Regions from separate parts of the Homo sapiens genome. Here region 1 is linked to region 2. The links come from fine-mapping of genetic effects on gene expression. A gene starts in region 2. The other region holds a variant in brackets. All regions are shown on one strand. Distances are between the middles of the regions. Region 1 overlaps BIN2 (bridging integrator 2). Region 2 holds the start of BIN2 (bridging integrator 2).

Region 1 (5,327 bases), 42 kb after region 2:
AAGTGATCCTCCTGCCTCAGCCTCTCAAGGAGCTGGGACTACAGGTGTGCACCCCTGCACGTGGTCTAGACTGGGCTTCCTACACCTTGGGTTCCCATCTCAGAACCTAAAATTTTTCCCAAAGAAATTATTTTACCACTTGCTTCTCCTAACTGCGTGTCATGAATTAGGATCACTTAAGTGTGAGAGTTGCAGTACATTCTTGAGGACGGTTCATCTAAAAGTGGCAGGTAGTAATTTTAAGACCTCGCACTCCCTTATAGATACACATCCACACCATGTCACACAGATTACATGGTGTTTGATCATGGAAACAACTCAGGAATTCAAAGACCTGGTTTCCTGTCCCAGCAAGTCTTTTTACCCTTTGAATCTTAGTTTATTCATCTGTAAAAGAGGATGGATGAAAGCCTTTCCCGATGCCTTCAGGCTCTGGTGAAACAACACTGTATTTTGCCCTTTGTAATAGTACAAATACTGAGACCCTTGTAAAGTATAAGGCACAGAAGACACTTCTATGCTGAGAGGCTGGAAAGGTTGAGCCACCTCTTACTGGCAGAACTCTTCTCTTTGTAGGGCCAAGACCAGCTTCAAGTCTCCATGGTACCAGAAAACAACAACCTCACAGCACCTGAACCTCAAGAAGAGGTAAGACCAGATATACAGAGAATAGATTGGGCATTAGATTGACAGGGGTTTGGGAAAAGGCTGGAATCTTCACCACAGGCTACAAGGGGAATCCGGCAGTGAACCATACCCTTAGGGCAGTCAAGCAGGTGGGAATCAGAGGAAACAAGAATGAACTGGGACTTCGTGGTATCTCCGTGCCCATTTTCCTATACTTGACCTTAAACTGGCCCTATCTTCTAGGTATTTATTTAATTAAATCTCAAATTATTTCAAAAAGGAGTTAAAGAGGTTAAGATATTTTTTTTAAATGCAAAAAGGTCATATTATACAGTAATGTGTTGCTCAACAACAAGGATATGCTCTGAGAAATGCATTATTAGACGATTTTGTCATTATGTGTGGCTGTATGGTATAGCCTATTGCTTCTAGGCTGCAAACCTATACAGCATGTTACTTTACTGAATTCTGTAGGCAGCTGTGACACAGTGGTTAATATTTGTGTATCTAAACATAGAAAAGTACAGTAAAAATAGCATATAGAAAATAAAAAGTGATACACTTGTATAGGGCACTATCATGAGTGGAGCTTGCAGGAGTGGAAGCTTCTCTGGGTGAGTCAGTGAGTGAGTGGTGAGTGAATGTGAAGGCCTAGGACATTACTTACACTCCTATAGACTATAAACACTGTACACTTAGGCTACACCATTAAAAAATATTTTTCTTTTCTTTTTTTTTTTTTTGAGACGGAGTTTCACTCTTGTTGCCCAGGTTGGAGTGCAATGGCATGATCTCGGCTCACCGCAGCCTTGGCCTCTGGGTTCAAGCAATTCTCCTGCCTCAGCCTCCTGAGTAGCTGGGATTACAGGCATGCGCCACCACGCCCAGCTAATTTTGTACTTTTAGTAGAGACGGGGTTTCTCCATGTTGGTCAGGCTGGTCTCAAACTCCCGACCTCAGATGATGCACCTGCCTTGGCCTCCCAAAGTGCTGGGGTTACAGGCGGGAGCCACCACACCCGGCCAAAAAATATTTTCTTTATATCCTTATTCTGTAAGCTTTATTCTGTATTTTTTCTGTTTCTTTTTAAAACTTTTTTTGTTAAAAACTAAGACACAGAGCTGGGTGTGTTGTGGCATGTGCCTGTAGTAGTTCCAGCGATGCAGGAGGCTGAGGCAGGAGGATCACTTGAGCCCACGAGTTCAAATACAACCTGGGCAACATAGCTAGACACCGTCTATAAACAAGTAAATAAAAACACGCAAACATACACATTGGCCTACGGTCAGGATCACCCATATCACTGTCTTCTACCTTTACATTTTGTCCCACTAGAAGGTCTTCAGGGCACTACCACAAATGGACCTGTCATCTCTGGTAATAACAACGCCTCTTCCTGAAGGATCTACTTGAGGCTGTTTTACAGTTAATGTTTTTTTTAAATAAGCAGAACTTTTTTTTTTTTTTTTTTTTGAGATGGAGTCTCTCTCGGTCGCCCAGGCTGGAGTACAGTGTACAGTGGTGCAATCTCGGCTCACTGCAACCTCCGCCTCCTGGGTTCAAGCGATTCTCCTGCCTCAGCCTCCTGAGTAGCTGGGATTACAGGCGGTGGCGCCACCATGCCTGGCTAATTTTTGTATTTTTGGTAGAGACAGGGTTTCACCATGTTGGTCAGGCTGATCTGGAACTCCTGACCTCATGATCCTCCCGCCTCAGCCTCCCAAAGTGCTGGGATGCTGGGATTACAGGTGTGAGCCAACGCACCTGGCCAATTAGCAGAACTTTTTTTTTAATAAGTAGGAAACACACTAAAATAATAATAAAAAGTATTGTAGGCTGATGTGGTGGTTCATGCCAGTAATCCCAGCACTTTGGGAGGCTGAGGCAGGCAGATCACTTGAGACCAGGAGTTCAAGACCAGCCTGACCAACATGGTGAAACTCCATCTCTACTAAAAATACAAAAATTAGCCGGGCATGGTGGCACGCACCCGTAATCCCAGCTACTTGGAAGGCTGTGGCATGAGAACATGAGAATCACTTGAACCCGGGACAAAGAAGCTGCAGTGAGCCAGGATTGTGCCACTGCACTCCAACCTGGGCAATGGAGTGAGACTGTGTCTCAAAAATAATATATATAGAAAAATATTTTTAAAAGCATAGTATATTAAATACATCAAGTAATATAGTTGTTTATTGTTATCA[A/G]GTGTTATGTACTGTACATAATTGCATGTGCTATACTTTTTACAACTGGCAGCACTGTAAGTTTGTTTATACCAGCATCATCACAAATATGTGAGTAATGTGTTGTGCTGTGATGTTATAAAGGCTACAATGTTAACAATAGCTGCCACATCACTAGGCAATAGAAATTTTTCAGCTCCATTAAAATGTTATGGGACCACCTTTGTATATAGAGTCCATTGTTGATCAAAATGTCATTATGCAGCATGTGAACTGCATATATATATGTTTATTATATTAACATACACACATATACACAACATACAGCAGAAAAACTCAGAATTATATGAGACAGGATAGTGATGTAAAATGGAGCCATGAATTAGGCAAGTATAAAAAATGCATTCTATAAAATAAGCTTACTAAGGATGACCATGAAATTGGTTCCAGACTTTCTAAAATCCAAGAAGAGAAAAACCTGATCAGTTAACCCAATTCACAATGCTCATTCCTTAAGGAGGCTAGGTGCCGGGGCTCACACCTGTAATCCCAGCACTTTGGGAGGCTGAGGTGGGAGGATCACTTGAGCCCAGGAGTTCAAGACCATTCTAGGCAACAAATTTTTTTTTTAATAAATTAGCCAGGCATGGTTGTGTGCGCCTGTAGTCCTAGCTACTCAGAGGCTGAGGTGAGAATACTTGAGCCCTGGAGTTCAAGGCTACAGTTAGCTATGATTGTGCCACTACACTCCAGCCTGGGAGACAGAGCAAGACTATGTCTCAAAAAGAAAAAAAAAGAAATTCTCCTGTGAATCATCATAAAGATATTGTGAATGATGTAATGAACAATATCTGCAACAAGTCCTTGCAATAATCCCAACAACCAGTTTCACATTGCCTCCCTCAAGAGAGGCCAGTGGCATTACATGAAGTATAATTCAGTAGAAGCAAACTGAGTTTAACCCCTCCATAAGTGGTTGGTGGGAAGGCAGGTCAACACCTAACACAATCATGTTTACTTTCCAGGTATCCACAAGTGAAAATCCACAACTCTGAAGAGAAACTACCAAGACTCCTCCTGCCCCAAACCTCGCCAGAGAAGCTCTTCAACCAGAGGGTATAGGTCAGAGGGATATAAGAGCCAGCATCCATCCCTGGGTTCTCAGTAGGAATGCTGGTGCTGTCTAAAGACCTGGCATTAATGGAGGCGGAGGAGCAGCCTTACGGGAGGGATGGAGGGAGGCAGGCTGGGGAGAAGAGAACATTAGACTCAGGGAATATTTAATTCTGGTTTTAGCATTATTAGAATAAGACTTTATACATTAACTAAAGTGGAGCTTTAATCACTATAAAAAGCAAAAGTATCTATAGACACAGACACTTGCCTATACAGAGACATAACCACACACACTCAGAGGATAGTGAACAAATCTGTCTTTGACTTACGACCCATTTTGCAAGACTTAAAGCCGGAAGAACACATTTTCAGATTGTTAAATAAAGTCTGATTCTGACTATCTGTGGATTGTTTATTTGACAAAGGGCATTGTTGCAACCCAGCACACTGTTTTCCACTTAGGTATGGTTATTGATTCTGCCCCAGGTTCAGAAAGGTTTAGTCACATCCCTGACCCCCAGCTCACCCTAACTCCTGACTGTAATTCTTTTATGATACCAAGGGCCACAGACTCTTCTCCTTAATCCTGCATGTGCTCCCCACTCCCCACTTTGGTTGATAAACAGATACACTTGGAAAGGGGTAATAACATTTTAGAGCTATATCTGGTGTTTACAATTTAGTACTTGGTATGAGTAAGGGTCTGAGCACAAGAGAGGAAGATATGAAACTGAAAGGATACAAAGTATAATAATAACAATCATATCGGCTGGGTGCGGTGGCTCACAGCTATAATCCCAGCACTTTGGGAGGCCGAGGCCGGTGGATCGCCTGAGGTTGGGAGTTCGAGACCAGCCTGACCGACATGGAGAAACCCTGTCTCTACTAAAAAAATACAAAAGCAGCCGGGCGTGGTGGTGCATACCTGTAATCGCAGCAACTCGGGAGGCTGAGGCGGGAGAATCGTTTGAACCCAGGAGGCGGAGGTTGCAGTGAGCCAAGATTGTGCCATTGCACTCCAGCCTGGGGAACAAGAGTGAAACTGTCTCAAAAAAAAAAAATCCTATCCTAGAAATGGCATGAAATTTGGAGTCAGAAGTCCTGGATTCTTTTGGGAGGCCAACAGGGGAAGACTGCTTGAGCCCAGGAGTTGGAGACTAGCCTGGGCAAGATGATGAGACCTCTATCTCTTATTTTTAAAAAAAATTTTAAAGGGCTGGATGTGGTGGCTCACACCTTTAATCCCAGCACTTTGGGAGGCTGAGGCGGGAGGATAACCTGAGCCCAGGAGTTTTACACCAGCCTAGGCAACATAGACCCCCATCTCTACAAAAAATTTAAAAACTAGGCCAGGCACGGTAGAGCGCACCTATACTCCCAGCCACTTAGGAGGCTGAGGAG
Region 2 (5,342 bases):
AGGAGGTGGAGGTTGCAGTGAGCTGAGATCGTGCCACTGCACTCTAGCCTGGGCAACAAAGCAAGACTCCGTCTCAAAACAAACAAACAAAAAACTTCCTGAGTGACTGAATGTGCCCTGTCTTTCCCAGGTATACTGTGGGTTCATCCTTCTTTTGTTTCCCCCTTTAGTGCCTAAAACGAACGCCCACTCCAAGTTTCTGGGTGATGGCAACTACTAGGATACACCAGAGATAGAAGTATAAGATTAGGAGGCAGGGCAGATACCAGCAGACTAAGAAAGTGACAAATTAGAAAGGAGACTGGAGAAAATCGCTTGGGCCTGGGAGGTGGAGGCCGCAGTGAGCCAAGATTGCGCCACTGCATTCCAGCCTGGGCAATGAAGTGAGATTCTGTCTCAAAAAAAAAAAAAAACAACAATGGAGACTGGAGAGCTAAGAATAGAAAAAAGGAGAGAAGAGAAGATACTAAACAAAGAAACGAAAGGGTTGAGGGGAAGAGGCAGAACAGAAAGGAAGAGGCAACAACAACATAGGGCCTCAAGCTAAGTGTGAATCAGCACTTTAAGGCTGGGACTAAAATTAGGCAACCGGATCCAGGGTTCTATAAACCACAGAGAACTGGGAAACTGATAATTCTGCTGTATCCTGGCCAGGGCTCAGTCTGTTAGAGTGGCCTATGAGAAAGCAAAGGGGGAACTGAAAGGGGAAGGCTAAAAAGGATGAGAAGCAGCTTTTCATGTCAATCACTTAAGACCAGACAAGAGGGACTAGGGTATTAAACATTACAGAAGGAGAAACTGGCTGAGACAGACCCTGGAATTGACAGGCTCAGCAGAGGCCTCTAGAACACTCCATGTGCTATAAGAGGCTGAGTCTGTTCCCATCCCAGTTCCACCACTGAGGAGCTGGGTGGCTGTGGTCAAGTCATCAGCCCTTTCTGTGACTCAATTTCCCTATCTAATTAACTTCTAAGGGTTGTTTCTTCTCTAACACTACATGATTTGGTGACCATCAATTTCAGTTTGCAAGATATTGGCACTAAACAGAGTTTCTTAGGAGACAGTGGCTGGGTTGCATTGCTGAGGATGCCATGTAGTCCTGGCAGGGACACAGGTACTGGCCTCCTTCTGCCAGTGACACACCTGTTAGCATTGCCATCTACTCTCAGTGTTCCCGCAGTACTGCTATTCTCCATGCTTCTCCCCACTTCTCCCCATCCAATATCAAGTCCTTCTATTTTCATCACCCTGCCTCTTCCAGGGCATCACCAAAGCTAACATCCAGAATAAACCCTAATCGCCTGGCAGGGCAAGGTGGTTCACACCTGTAATCCCAGCCCTTTGGGAGGCTGAGGCGGGTGGATTGCTTGAGCTCAAGAGTTCCAGATCAGCCTGGGTAGCCAGGAGTGGTGGCATGCACGCACCTTAGTCCCAGCTACTCAGGAGGCTGAGGTGAGACCATCACTTGGGCCTGGGAGGTAGAGGCTGCAGTGAGCCCTGATGGCACTGCTGCACTCCAGCCTGGCAACAAAGCAAGACCCTGTCTCCAAACAAACAAACAAACAAACAAACCCTAATCACCTATTCCCAGAAAATTTTGTATCCATCTCTACAAATAAATTAAGCACATTACATTAGAATCACCTGATTACCCACCTATCTCCACTTCCAGACTTTAAGCATCTTTATTTATGTACTTATTTATTAATACTTATTCTTTATTGGTTGAGAAAGGGCCTCACGCTTTGCCCAGGCTGGAATGCAGTGGCACCATCAGGGCTCACTGCAGCCTCCACCTCCCTTGGCTCGGGTGATCCTCCCACCTCAGCCTCCCTGATAGCTGGGACTACAGGTGTGTGCCACCACGCCCAATTAATTTTTGTATTTTTAGCAGAGAGAAGGTCTTGCTATGTTGCGCAGGCTAGTCTCAAACTCCTGGGCTCAAGCAATCTGCCTGCCTCAGCCTCCTAAAGTGTTGGGATTACAGGTGTGAGCCGTGGTGCCCGGCCAGACTTCATTAAGCATCTTAAGGTCAGGGACTGCATTTTATTCATCCTTGTTTCAGAACACCCAGCAATGCCTGGTACACAGTTGACCTTGAGTGCAGTAATGATTGTTTTGGAGAAAGAAGAGGAACACAGTAGCATACAAGGGCCTCTAATTTTGTGTCAGGCCCTATCTTCCCCCTCCACTCCTTAGGAAGTGTTATTTTGACCTTCTTCCCTGCCTTGAGGAAATTTTAACCTGCACTGTAAAATCTGAGTACGTGGTTCCTCCACACCTAGTGTCCTAATCTCAAGCTATCCCCTCAAACAGGTCAGGGAGGAATTTTTTGGAGAACTTCTCCCTAAAGAAACAATAGTTGTCATCTCAACAGCCGCACCCCAATTTGCACAATCTGTGTCTGTGTTCACATTCTGCCTCCATCCAGTACACTGTACTCCAACTAGAAAAACTTGCTCCTCATGCTCAGCACGGGCGTCCATACTATCCTCCTCAGCCTTTTTTCAATGTGATCATTCTCTTGCCTAAGAACCAGCCCCCTACCCTGTTTCTATCTCCAGCTTAGTTGTTCCTCATTTATTTATTTATTTATTTATTTATTTATTTATTTATTTGAGACGAACTGTCGCTCTGTCGCCCAGGCTGGAATGCAGTGGCGCGATTTCGGCTCACTGCAACCTCTGCCTCCCGGGTTCAAACAATTCTCCTGCGTCATCCTCTCGAGTAGCTGGGACTGCAGGCGTGCGCCACCACACCCAGCTAATTTTTGTATTTTTAGTAGCGACGCGGTTTCACCGTATTGGTCAGGCTGATCTCCTAACCTCAGGCGATCCACCCGCCTCGGCCTCCCAAAGTGCTAGGATTACAGGCGTGAGCCACCGCGCCCGGCCTGTTTCTCTCTTTCAAGCCCGGCTCGGGTGTCCTGCCTGCTTTCTGCACTCTATCCCTACCAGTTCCAGGCTTAGAGCCTACCTGGAGCAAGAAACGCAGTGTACATGGCGGCTTCGCATGCATACTCAGAGAACCTAAACGTGTTTTCGATATGGTAGGTCCTCTCGCTGAGTGGAACCCACATCATTTTCTACCCTGCGGTGGCAGTTGCTTTGCAGTGCTCAGCGTGATGGGAACTGGCTTTCCGGAGCGAGTGAGTGTGGGCCCACCACTGAGGACCTGGTTCAGTGAGGCCGAGGTTTCGGGCAGGGGTTGGAGCTCGGAAGCTGGCCTCGAGCGAGCGCTGCCTGAGGGTAGGCCCCGGGCCCGCCCCTCCGAGCCGGCCTGCTCCAGCTGACAGTGGTGGGCTGAGGGGCGGGCCTCAGGGCTGGCCAGGGGCGGCCTGAGGTGGCTCAGGGCTGGGGCCGGATGCGAGGCATGCCGGGAGCCCGCACTTCCTCCTCGGGGGCCTCAGAAAACCACAGGGCGCGGGGCCAGGGCGGCGGCCCCCAGGGAGTTGGCAGGATGGCAGAGGGCAAGGCAGGCGGCGCGGCCGGCCTCTTCGCCAAGCAGGTGCAGAAGAAGTTTAGCAGGGCCCAGGAGAAGGTAGGTGGCCGGGCCTCGCTGTCTGTCTGGCCCACAGGGAGCCGAGGCCGAGGCCGAGCCCGGCCGGGCAGGAGGGGCGGGCAGGGTGCTCAGGGGCCCCGAAGGGTCTGGGCTGACGAGAAGGGTCTCCCGCTCTCCCAGGGAAACGGGAGCGAGGAGTGGGCTTCCATGAAAACTGGCAGATTGGAGAGAGGTCGGAGACCGCCACCCGATCTTGGGCAAGGATAAGGGAAGCTGGGGAGACAACAGTCTCTGGGCAGAACCTTCGACAACCCTCAGGCTGACCCAGAAAAGGTGAAAGAAAGGAAGTGATGGTGGTGGCCACCTTTGTATCAAATTTTGTGCTAGCAATCCAAAATTGGTATTTTACAGATGATGAAATTGGAGGGTAATTTTCCATAGAGGGCAATTTCCCCAAAAACAGCGATGCAGCGGATGCCAGCAGGCACCCCCCACCAAAGGCTTAGAATAATCCTGCATAGTTCTCCCCCTACCTGACCCTGCCTGGCCTCTGGGTGGTGTTTCAGCTGACGTAAGCAGGAGCCCAAATCTGCTTCTTCTACCCTCCCTTTGGCGTTGGGGAGTACACCTCCCAGGGTGATGAACCACATCTGTGTTCAGAGTGTGTCCTTGGTTAGTGTCAGGTAGCCCTGCTCCAGCACTGGCACTTAGGTGGGCTGCCCATCTATTACTTGCTTGGCAATCTAAATTGTGGGGACATTCTCTACACATTTTGATGGCATTTTTGTTTCTACCTGTACAGAATATTTTCTTTGCTTCTAACCTGAGCCTCTGCTCTCCACCTACCAACCCTCTAGTAGACAAGGCGGTTTGGGAAGACATGTCAGCCAGAAGAAAGAGCGAGGGAAGAAAGACAAGAAGGACCTGAGATAGAGTTTCGGTTTTCCTTTTTTTCTCTCTCTCTTTATTAAGCCCAACCTGCCTTCTACAACGGAGAAGTTTTGGTTTTCTAAGAGCTGATGGACTTAGAAGCATTTGGATGAACAGCTCTGCTTACCAACTGAAATATCCCTATTATCTTCTAAAAGTGGAGCACTGCTTTGAGCCCTGGGAAGGCTTAAAGGCAACCAGCTCTCCCGAGTTGATTTATCAGCAGAAAACTGATGGAATGTAGATGTAGCTCCTGACTTTAAGAGACCACAATGGAAGGGAGGTTATTTTCTATCATTTGAGGTCATGTGAAAGAGAGGAGGAAAAGGGAAAGAGTTCGTGTAGCCAGACTTCGTTACTTCACTTACCCTAACTTCACCTTGATCCTAGTTTCAGCCTCTCTGAAGACTTACAAATCTGGTAGACCCGAGAGCAGGGCCTATGGGAAGGTCTAGCTCGAAACAGTGTGGGCGAGCAGGAGGTACTGGAGAGAAGGCCACACTGTGGTTGAAAAAAAAAAAAACCCTAAAAGACAAAACACTCATGAATGATAGTAATTTTAAAAAGACATACCAGCCAGGCACAGTGGCTCACTCCTGTAATCCCAGCACTTTGGGAGGCCAAGGTGGGAGGACTGCTTGAGCCCAGGAGATCAAGACTGCAGTGAGCAGTGATCACACCACACCACACTCAAGCAGAGGGAGACTCTGTCTCAAAAAATAAAAATAAATACATAAAAATAAAAGACATACAATTGATTGTATTTCACTCTTGCATCTTCTGTCTTCATCTAGCCTCTCGTCAACACTAAAACCTTGCTTTGGGCTTTCACTCCTTTGTAAGCATAGACTCCAAACCTTGGCTAAATAATGTCCTGCTCTGGGCTTCAGATCTTGCACCTGTAAAATGAG

The links. PIP is the estimated chance that this variant, and not a neighbour inherited with it, causes the effect.
Region 1: its variant is the best candidate, but not a certain one, in a credible set for the expression of BIN2 in whole blood (TOPMed, PIP 0.68).

The regions. Positions count from the first base shown.
Region 1 is chr12:51,280,037-51,285,363 of GRCh38, reverse strand. It overlaps BIN2 (bridging integrator 2), which reads left to right. Exons shown (of 13, transcript NM_016293.4): 12 at 577-648; 13 at 3,836-4,326. The coding sequence ends at 3,865. Among named protein-coding and RNA genes, the nearest start is that of SMAGP, 12 kb to the right of the region's middle. The variant A/G (reference allele first, on the strand shown) is at 2,832.
Region 2 is chr12:51,322,220-51,327,561 of GRCh38, reverse strand. BIN2 (bridging integrator 2) reads left to right here and starts at 3,388. Exons shown (of 13, transcript NM_016293.4): 1 at 3,388-3,540. The coding sequence starts at 3,460. It overlaps LOC105369767 (a long non-coding RNA gene), which reads left to right and starts at 3,554. Exons shown (of 2, transcript XR_944957.3): 1 at 3,554-3,834; 2 at 4,359-5,194. RefSeq lists silencers at 163-457, 3,153-3,642 and an enhancer at 3,673-3,862.